2 separate regions of the Homo sapiens genome follow, and region 1 is linked to region 2. Evidence: fine-mapped expression QTL. A gene starts in region 2. The other region holds a variant in brackets. All regions are shown on one strand. Distances are from middle to middle.

Region 1 (5,372 bases), 37 kb before region 2:
GAAAAAATTCACATGGTGTTGAGAACCATGAGCTTTATTTTCTGGTTTTGTTTGTATTTTTAAACAGGGACACTTTGAAACAACATGGTGCTGGGGCAGGTGGTACTAGAAATATTTCTGGAACTAGTAAATTCCATGTGGACTTAGAGCGGGAGCTGGCAGACCTCCATGGGAAAGATGCCGCACTCTTGTTTTCCTCGTGCTTTGTGGCCAATGACTCAACCCTCTTCACCCTGGCTAAGATGATGCCAGGTAAGGAAGCCTGGCATGAGTGCCTTCGAGTTTTTTGGGTTTCTTAGTAATAACAAGAATATTGGCAACAAAGAAGCCTTACCAGAACCTCTCAATTGAAAATCATAATCCTATCTGGGCATTTGTTCTGGGGTCAAGCATGAAATGCTGACTGTACATTATGGGTTCCAGGAGAACGTGATACCAGTGAAAATTCAAACTTGAAACGTCTCATCCTTGAGCTAATTGCCTCAAATATGTTTTGTATTCTAAGATGATCCTTTGGAGAAGTCTCTTAATCATTTAGTTAGCTCTTGATTGAGTTTGGAGTGAGGCAGTCAGATTTAAGAGCAGATTAATGGCCTGCCACAAGGTTATTCTACACCTTTGGGCCTTCTCACAAGGGAAGCACTAACTAGTTATTTTGCCAGGAAGAAACTGGCACACAGTGTCTTTTTCCTACTAGGCATTTTCAAAGCATCATTTCCAAGGAAAAGTCTGTTGTCTTTCTCTAGGAAATAATTTGTCTTCGATGCACATGGCAATAAATAGCATTTTTGTTGTCTTAGGCTGTGAGATTTACTCTGATTCTGGGAACCATGCCTCCATGATCCAAGGGATTCGAAACAGCCGAGTGCCAAAGTACATCTTCCGCCACAATGATGTCAGCCACCTCAGAGAACTGCTGCAAAGATCTGACCCCTCAGTCCCCAAGATTGTGGCATTTGAAACTGTCCATTCAATGGATGGTAAGTGTGGATAGAGGTTCCTCTGAAACCTAAGATGAAAAACTATGCCTGAACTCTTTAAAAGTATGGTGTTTTGTTGTGTTTTTTAATTTTTTTTTTTTGTGACCGATCCTCGCTCTGTTGCCCAGGCAGGAGTGCAGTGGTGCGATCTCGACTCACTGCAAGCTCCGCCTCCCGGGTTCACGTCATTCTCCTGCCTCAGCCTCCCGAGTAGCTGGGACTACAGACACCTGCCACCACGCCTGGCTAATTTTTTTTTTTTTTTTTTTTGAGACGGAGTCTCCCTCTGTCACCCAGGCTGGAGTGCAGTGGCGTGATCTCGGCTCACTGCAAGCTCCACTTCCTGGGTTCACGCCATTCTCCTGCCTCAGCCTCCTGAGTAGCTGGGACTACAGGCGCCTGCCACCACGCCCAGCTAATTTTTTGTATTTTTAGTAGAGACAGGGTTTCACCATGTTAGCTAGGATGGTCTCGATCTACTGACCTTGTGATCTGCCCGCCTCAGCCTCCCAAAGAGCTGGAATTACAGGTGTGAGCCACCGCACCTGGCCTAACTTTTTGTATTTTTAGTAGACGGGGTTTCACTGTGTTAGTCAGGATGGTCTCAATCTCCTGACCTTGTGATCCGCCCACCTTGGCGTCCCAAAGTGCTGGGATTACAGGCGTGAGCCACCGCGCCTGGCCTGTTGTGTTTTTTAATTTTCTTTTCCTTTCTGCCAGGATTTTTTTTTTTCTTCTTCCAACTTTTAGGTTCAGTGGGTACATGTGCGGGTTTATTATATGGGTAAATTATGTGTCACAGGGTGTTGGTGTACCAATTATTTCATCACCTAGGTAGTAAGCATAGTACCCAATGGTAGTTTTTGATCTCACCCTCCTCCCACCCTCCACCCTCAAGTCGGTCCCTGGTGTCTGTTGTTCCCTTCTTTGTGTCCATGTGTTCTCAGTGTTTAGCTCCCACTTATAAGTGAGAGCGATATTTGGTTTTTCCGTTCCTGTATTAATTCACTTAGGATGGCCTCTAGCTCCATCCGTATTGCTGTAAAGGACATGGTCTCATTCTTTTTTTATTGCTGTGTAGTATTGCATTCTGCCAAGATTTGTAATTGGTGGACTTTTTTCTAATAGATTTGGGTGAAAGTGGATTTTCTATTCTGGCTTTTACTAGGCTCTGGGACCCCAGGTAACCTAGAAATTAGAGGAAGTTCATTTTCTTTCCAATATTGAAAATGATACCTTAGAATAGAAGTTTACGTTGTTCTGACTCTAACCAAAACAGAAATTTCTGAAGCGGCAAAAGCTCTTCAGAGCAGTCTCTGGTCTTTCCTCAGGGGC[G/A]GTGTGCCCACTGGAAGAGCTGTGTGATGTGGCCCATGAGTTTGGAGCAATCACCTTCGTGGATGAGGTCCACGCAGTGGGGCTTTATGGGGCTCGAGGCGGAGGGATTGGGGATCGGGATGGAGTCATGCCAAAAATGGACATCATTTCTGGAACACTTGGTATGTATACATTGTATTACATACACTAAAATTCCATTATCCTAACAAGGCCAAGGACTAACTAGTCTAACTGGGATCAGGTGAGGAGACAGCCTGACAGCATATGAAGCCTGGGCCACTCTTTCTTTTGGCCCAGCTTAGTGGAATCCCTTGGGTCATGGAGGCATGGCTCTTAGAATCAAAGTAAATCCCACAGCCTAACACACTGATAGACCATTTATTGCTATCTGAGCTCATTTCAGACATAGTTGTGGGTCTAGCCCCATGCCATGGCAAGAGCCTGTACTCTCTGTGCCTCAGGCTGTTCTTAATTAAAAAGAAAAAGGAATTCTAGTACTTTTCTCCTGGAGCACTTGTTAGGTTCAGGTGTTGTGAAGTGCTGAACTCCGTGCCTGCCACGTGGGAACATTCTAATTCATCCTGGTTTTCCTCTGCTCTTCCTCATACAGAGGCTATGTCTCGTGGTAGATGGGAGCTAGACTTTGGAGCCCTGCCACCTCACTAGTTGTGTGACCTTGAGTTGGTAGTTAACCTTTCTATACCTCAGTTTCATCATCAATATAATGGAGAAAACAATAGGACCTAAATCAAAATATATGTGGAGAAGGTAAATAAGTTGTATGCAAACAGTTATTATAAACATTCCCTCTGAGAACCTATGAGAACCCTAAAGAGACGAAAATTACATAAATTTGAAGAATTTTTGTAATTTTGAAGAATTTTTTTAAGCCTTCAGAAGTGGGTAAGGCAGTTGGAAACCCATCTAGCAGTTAGCTAAAATGCCAGTTTATAGCCTATGCTTGGTAAAGGAAGGGCAGGCTTTTTAAAAAGCGTCCTTCAGCACTGTCAAGGGGTATGAGAACCTAGTGCAGACCCAGAAAGCCTGGGAGTTCTAAGGGTGGAACCACTACCAGGAGAAAAACACCTGATCATGTGTCTTAATTCAAGAAGCTCTTTTCTTTTTTTTCTTTTTTTTCCGAGATGGAGTGTCACTCTGTTGCCCAGGCTGGAGTGCAGTGGCGCGATCTCAGCTCACTGCAAGCTCCACCTCCCAGGTTCATGCCATTCTACTGCCTCAGCCTCCCAAGTAGCTGGGACTACAGGCACCCGCCACCATGCCTGGCTAATTTTTTGTATTTGTAGTAGAGACGGGGTTTCACCGTGTTAGCCAGAATGTTCTCAATCTCCTGACCACGTGATCTGCCCGCCTCAGCCTCCCAAAGTGCTGGGATTACAGGCGTGAGCCACCACACCCGGCCAGAAGCTCTTTTCTTTTAAGGATGTCTCCTGATGTGGGCTCTTTGAAGGTATGGTCATTGTGAGATGGAAAAGGCTGGAGAGAGAAACTTTATACCATAGGAGATTGAACCAACCCAGCTTTGCATGTGGTTTTAGCAAAAACATTAATTATAGAATGTTATGTTAAGATCTATGAAGACTCTTCTGGAGTTCTTTTTGTTTTTTGAGACAGGCTCTCACTCTGTGCCCAGGTGTGATCACAGCTCATCTGCAGCCTCCACCTCCTGGGCTCAAGTGATCCTCCCACCTCAACCTCCTGAATAACTGAGACTACAGGTGTGCGCTAGCATGCCTGGCTAATTTTTGTATTTTTAGTAGAAACGGGGTTTCACCATGTTGGCCAGGCTGGTCTCTAACTCCTGAGCTCAAGTGATTTGCCCCCCTCGGCCTCCCAAAGTTCTGGGACTATAGGTGTGAGCCACTGCACCTGGCCTCTTCTGGAGTTTTTAATCCTGAAACTTGAGATGTAGATCACACAAAAGGACTCAATGAGAATTGAAAACCAAGTCTGGCCCTAAATCAATCCTAATGCATTAATTGTCAAGAGTTTTGTTCTTAAGTAGGAAATAACACCAGTCATACCAAAACAGTTAATGCCTTAGCTGGGTAAAATTCCAGCCTCTGGGATAATGTTCCCTGTGGGAGGATGGTACAAGCACTGCAGAGCCAGTCTTGTTCCAAAGAGCACATGCAGTGCAGACATGGGGAGTGGAGCTGTGCTGGCTGTCAGAGCAGCAAGCCTGGGTGAGAAAGGGAAAGGAGAATAAGATGGTGGGAAGGGAGGCAGCAGCAGGGTATTTGGGCACACTGGGACCAGTCACTGAGGTGTCAGGTCTGATTGGAAGACCTGCATTTTGATCCTGGTTAGACACCAGCTTGGCCATATGACTTTGGGCAAGACCCTTTTGTAACTTTCCTTAGCTTTTTTACCCTTTTAAAAGTGAGTAGCCAGGCACGATAGCTCACACCTGAATCCCAGCACTTTGGGAGGCTGAGACAGGAGGATCACTTGAACCCAGGAGTTTGAGACCAGCCCTGGGCAACGAAGCATGGCCTCCTCTCTACACAAAATAAAAATTTAAAAAATCAGCCAGGCATGGTGGTGTACACCTGTCCTAGCTACTTGGGAGGCTGAGGCGGAAGGAATACTTGAGCCCAGGAGGTTGAGGCTGCAGAGAGCTATGATCATGCCACTGCACTCCAGCCTGGGTGACAGAGCAAGACCCTGTCTCTAAAAAAAAAAGGAAGATTAGATATCCTTTTATAGTCATGCATTGCTTAACGATGGGGGATGTGTTCTGAGAATTGCATCACTAGGCGATTTCATCATTGTGCAAACACCATAGAGTGTACTTACATAAACCTAGATTATATAGCCTACCGCACACCTAGGCTTTGTGGTATGGCGTGTTGCTCCTAGGCTGCAAACCTGTACAACATGTTACTGTATTGGATACTGTTGGCAACACCATGGTATTTGTGTATCTAAACATACCTAAACATAGAAAAGGTACAGTAAAAATACAGTATTATAATCTTATGGGACCACCATCATATATGTGGTCGTCATTGACTGAGACATCATTAATGTGGTGCA
Region 2 (5,372 bases):
TCTGGAGTTCGAGACCAGCCTGATCAATATGGCGAAACCCCATCTCTACTAAAAATACAAAAATTAGCTGGGCATGGTGGCGGGTGCCTGTAATCCCAGCTACTGGGGAGGCTGAGGCAGGAGAATTGCTTGAACTCGGGAGGCGGAGGTTGCAGTGAGCCGGGATTGTGCCAGTGCACTCTAGCCTGGGTGACAGAGCAAGACTCCATCTCAAAAAAAAAAAAAAAAAAAAAAAAAAAAAAAGGAATGCCAGTGTTGTGTGGCTCAGTCTCCAAGCTTAACTCTCCCTTTAGCATAACAAATTTGGGGGTCCTGAAATTTTTATTTTCCTTTATGAAAAGATCAATAATCCATTTGCATAAAAAATAAAGTCTATATGGAAAAAGCCACCATCACAGCCAAAACACAAATAACAAACTGTAACTTGTTACAAACAGCATACTTGTAACTCATTTCAAAATAAAGAGCTGATTTCTCTAATATATAAAGAGCTCTCATAAGTCAATAAGAAAAAGACCAATGGTAGCCAGGCGTGGTGGCACATGCCTGTAATCTCAGCTACTCAGGAGGCTGAGGCAGGAGAATCACTTAAGCCCAGGAGGCAGAGGTCATGGGGAGCCGAGATCACACCATTGCACTCCAGCCTGGGCAACAAGAGCGAAACTCTGTATCAAAAAAAAAAAAAAGAAAAAGAAAAAGACAAATGGCCCAGTAGAAAGTGTGGCAAAGGATACAAACAGACCATTCACAGAAAAAGATAGATAAATAACATCTCTCAGGAAAGTACCTCCCAGTCACCCTTTGTTGGAAAGTTGTTGAAGGATGCACTTCAGCAAAATGAGGGAGTAAACCAAGAGACATAGGCTTAAGATCCAGGCAAGAGTGAGGCGCTTAGGAGCCCAGGAAGCCAGAAGAGCCTGGTAGCACTGAAGGAACACTCAGGCCACCTTGGAACAGAGAGGATGGGATTGCCATGTGGTTCCACATGGCTCTGAAAATAGACAATGGCTAAGCTGTGCAACAGACTGCCTATGACATTTGGTTGCCCAGAGCTTCTGTGAAAATACTTCAGGACAAGGCTTTCCCCCACCCAGGGGTGGGTTGGGGAATAGAGTGTATGCACTTTGTTTTGTCCAATTTTAGACTTTAAAATCCTCTGAGGCATCAACTGGTGAGGGTGAGGAAGTGGCCCCATAGACTGAATTGGGCCTGCCCCACCCTGGTACCTTTCTGTTCTGTCACAGTGACAATTCACAGCTCAGAGGTCCTTTGGGAAACTTTCTCTGACATCGCCCCTATCCTCTTGCCAGCTGGATGAAGCAGCATCCACCAGAACTGCTACCATCACTGCAGGGGGCTTGGTGGGCAGAGGCCTGGCTTGTCTCCATTAGCACTGCGTTCCTGTGCCCAGTGTGGCCCCAGCAGACACTGTGGGTTCAGTCAATCAGCCCCCAGGCTGGTCTGGGACTGAGTCATCGGAGGGAGTGGGTGTTGGGCACAGGTCCCTGCCCTAAGAACCTTCCTTCTTGGGCCCGAGGAACTCCCACTGGGGCAGGACTAGCTGCTGGGAGGAAGTAGGGCTTACTGAGCGTCTACCTGGGCTAGGGAGTGGAGGTGAAGGTGGACTCCTCATACAGCTCATATGCAGGCACTGGGCTGTGGAGCCTTAGCCGCTTTTAATTGGCAAGCCCTGGCTTCCTGGAGGAGGAAAGGGGAAGAGAAGTGCCCTGGGGGCGAGGATTGAGTCAGCTGCATTGTCATAATGGAAATAGTACAGCCCTGGGTGTCCAAGACTTCCCCTCCATGGGCCTCAGAATCGTCCATATGATGTAACACTCTTTTTTTTGAGACTGAGTCTCGCTCTGTTGCCCTGGCTGGAGTGCAGTGGCTCCATCTCGGCTCACTGCAACTTCTGCCTCCTGGGTTCAACCGATTCTTGTGCCCCAGCCTTCTGAGTAACTGGGATTACAGGCGCACACCACCACGCTTGGCTAATTTTTAGTACAGACGGGGTTTCACCATGTTGGCCAGGCTGGTCTCGAACTCCTGACCTCAAGTGATCCGCCCGCCTCGGCCTCCCAAAGCACTGGGATTACAGGCGTGAGCCACTGCCTCCGGCCAAAGTAACACTTTTGCACAGGGAGTTGGACTTGAGTGACAAATGGGTGACAAAGTGCTTTGTTAACTCGCAGATGTGAAGGGGACACTGCGGCTGACCGCCTGGTGACAGCTAGCCAGTGGTTGAGAGACCGCAAGATGGTTCCTCGTCTTTCACTTCCCTCCGTCCCAGGTCTGAACTCGGACCAGCTGGAGCCTTTGGGGGACCACGGATTCCCCTTTACACTCACACAGATTTCTCTTGTCCGTCACTCACTCACAGTCCAGTAAGGATCCTGCTGTCTATTCCGCGAAGACATCTTGAATGCAGGGACAGCCATTTGGAAGACTGTCCTCGAGGGTGGCAGCAGCCTCTCAGGACGGGGAAAGCCAAGGTGCCCACTAAGCCCGTCTGGGGTGGAGGGTGGCAGGCCGGGGTGGAGAGGATTGGAGGCCGCCTGAAGGAACCTGTGCTCGGTGGCATTTACTCAATGTGGGGGTCTGACACCTCCCAGCTCATTTTGTCCCCATCTTCCCCTTGCGTCAGGTCCCCACCCAGCAGGAGGAGGTCCGAGGATCTGCGCGACGCTGGCCCCGCGGAGTGTGGGGGACTTTTCCTCTCAACCACCAGTGCCCCGCAAGCGTGGGTGAACAGTCCTCCCTGGCTACTGTGGGACGCTGGGCAGGCGACTTCGCCTCTCTAGGCCTCGGTTTTCCTGCTTGTCAAATGGGGCTGATGCCGGCGTGGGCTTCTTCAGGCGGTCGCGAGCGTTGACCCCTGGAGTCAGCGAACCAGCCGCGCACGCACTCCCGGGCGGAGGTCGGGGCTGGGGGGCGACGCCTCCCGTCTGCGCGCCCCCGGCCCCGCCTCCCGCCGGCGCACCCCTCCCTCGGCTCCGCCCGCGGCCCGCTTCTTCCTCCCGCGGGCGGCCCAGCCCTAGCGCCCCGCGCTCCGCGGGCAGCCCCCTGCCGCCGCGCCATGTCCGCCGGCTGGTTCCGGCGCCGCTTCCTGCCTGGGGAGCCGCTCCCCGCGCCGCGGCCGCCTGGGCCGCATGCCAGCCCCGTGCCCTACCGACGGCCCCGCTTCCTTCGCGGCTCCAGCTCCAGCCCCGGGGCGGCCGACGCCTCGCGCCGCCCAGACTCCCGGCCCGTGCGCAGCCCCGCACGAGGACGCACGCTACCCTGGAATGCAGGCTACGCCGAGTGAGTGCCCCTCCCCGACCCCCAGCTCAGGCCCGGGCCTGAACCCGCTTCGGGTCCTGCGCCCGCCTAGAAAGCGGGAGGAGCTGAGTGACAGTCCCCACCCACCTGTGGACAGCCCCTTCTTGCCCTCACCTCCGAATCCTGACAACTTCCCGGTCATCCCGACCCAGCGTTTTCCTTGGGATTCCGACCTCCCCCTCAGAGAAGACAGGAGGTCGGGAAGGACCTGCAGCCCAGGGGCTTCCAAGATGAGGCCCAGAGACTCGGTAGAGTTCCAGCATTCGGGGCTTTGGAGATTTCCCCTCGCCCTCTACCCCCACCATCTCACCCTGGGTATGACCTGCGCTGTATGGGACAGGGCTTTGGGCTGCGACAGGACAGGGGCAGGAATGGCAACCTACCCTTACCGTCTAGCCCTGGGTCACCAGGTAGGCTCCAGAGGAGCTGGGCCCTGACTTTTACCTTAGCCATGAGGCCAGTGAAGTTAGGAAGCTTACATCGTGGTTGTCTAAGTGTGTGTTAGGGACAGCACTGGGGAGCTGTTGCCCCAGAGGGAGGGGTCTTCTCCCTGTGCTGGCTTGGGTCCCTGTGCCCATGGGGACATAGGTGTGTCCCTGGAGGGTCGCTTACCATTTCCCGGCCTCAGGATTATCAATGCAGAGAAATCTGAATTCAATGAGGATCAAGCCGCCTGTGGGAAGCTGTGCATCCGGAGATGTGAGTTTGGGGCTGAAGAAGAGTGGCTGACCCTGTGCCCAGAGGAGGTGAGTGCAGTCTGAGTTCTTGGCTGGAATCCCTCCGACAGGCTGGGGCCACGACCTGCAGGCTGAGGTTCTTACCCTGCTGCCCCAGGTCCTAGTTAGGTTGCGTCAGGGGACAAGTGGGGAAGTCAGGCAGAGGCTGACACTGAGCCCTTCCTGTGCAGTTCCTGACAGGCCATTACTGGGCACTGTTCGATGGGCACGGCGGTCCTGCAGCAGCCATCTTGGCTGCCAACACCCTGCACTCCTGCTTGCGCCGGCAGCTGGAGGCCGTGGTGGAAGGCTTGGTGGCCACTCAGCCCCCCATGCACCTCAATGGCCGCTGCATCTGCCCCAGTGACCCTCAGTTTGTGGAGGAAAAGGGCATCAGGGCAGAAGACTTGGTGATCGGGGCATTGGAGAGTGCCTTTCAGGAATGTGTGAGTGTGTGGCTTTTGGCTGGGGAAGAAGTGGAGATTTTGCCCCGGGGATCTCAGGAAATGGCATCTCTGTATACCCATGGTCATCACACCAGATCCTTGGATTGGGAGGATGAGATTGGGTTGGTTGGATTGTTACTAACAGCCATCACTATCAGCATAACCCCTCTCATTTATCCAGCACCTACTGTGTGCTAACTGCTTTTACCTGCATCATCTAATTGAATACCCTATTGGTCCTTGGTGCAGGGGCTGGTTTCTCTTCCTATTTTGAGTAGCACTTCCCTTGTCTAGATCTCCTGACTGCAGGGATCTTGGAGGTATGGCTGGACTTTGGGCTGGGACTGTCAGGCCTGCTGGTAGAAGTGAACTGTAGGGTAGGGTGGGGATTGAGAGACAAAGTAGTATGGTGGCAGAACAGGCAGCAGCTAAGGTGGCCTCGGTTTTCCCCAGGATGAGGTGATCGGGCGGGAGCTGGAGGCCTCAGGCCAGATGGGCGGCTGCACAGCCCTGGTGGCTGTGTCCCTGCAGGGAAAGCTGTACATGGCCAATGCTGGGGATAGCAGGTGAGTCACCCCTTGGAGGGTGGGCAAGGGTGGGATGGGGAGGGCATAAGCAGCAATGGGGACAAGCAAAGGTGGCTGGAAGTGGAGGGATAGTAGGAAGGATTGACTGGCTGAATTGTGTGTGTACTTGTTATGTGTCGAGTGTGGACAGTGGCTGCCGGGGAGGGCAGGGACCTCAAAGGCCCCGCTAAAGGGCTAAGCCTTCACCCTTGCAGGTCTTAGGTAGTCATGGAGGGCTTTAAGGGATCATCATGGACAGAGCTGGATCCTGGTGGTTGGAGGAGGGACTGGTAGGAGGGTGGCCATGGGTGAGGGTGGAGGCCTCC

The links. PIP is the estimated chance that this variant, and not a neighbour inherited with it, causes the effect.
Region 1: its variant is the best candidate, but not a certain one, in a credible set for the expression of PPM1M in whole blood (TOPMed, PIP 0.82).

What each region holds. Positions count from the first base shown.
Region 1 is chr3:52,205,772-52,211,143 of GRCh38, forward strand. It overlaps ALAS1 (5'-aminolevulinate synthase 1), which reads left to right. Exons shown (of 12, transcript NM_000688.6): 7 at 68-252; 8 at 801-980; 9 at 2,312-2,476. Among named protein-coding and RNA genes, the nearest start is that of ALAS1, 10 kb to the left of the region's middle. RefSeq lists an enhancer at 4,962-5,256. The variant G/A (reference allele first, on the strand shown) is at 2,316.
Region 2 is chr3:52,242,749-52,248,120 of GRCh38, forward strand. It overlaps PPM1M (protein phosphatase, Mg2+/Mn2+ dependent 1M), which reads left to right and starts at 3,011. Exons shown (of 10, transcript NM_144641.4): 1 at 3,011-3,300; 2 at 3,947-4,064; 3 at 4,226-4,480; 4 at 4,934-5,046. The coding sequence starts at 3,077. RefSeq lists silencers at 2,885-3,254, 3,295-3,354.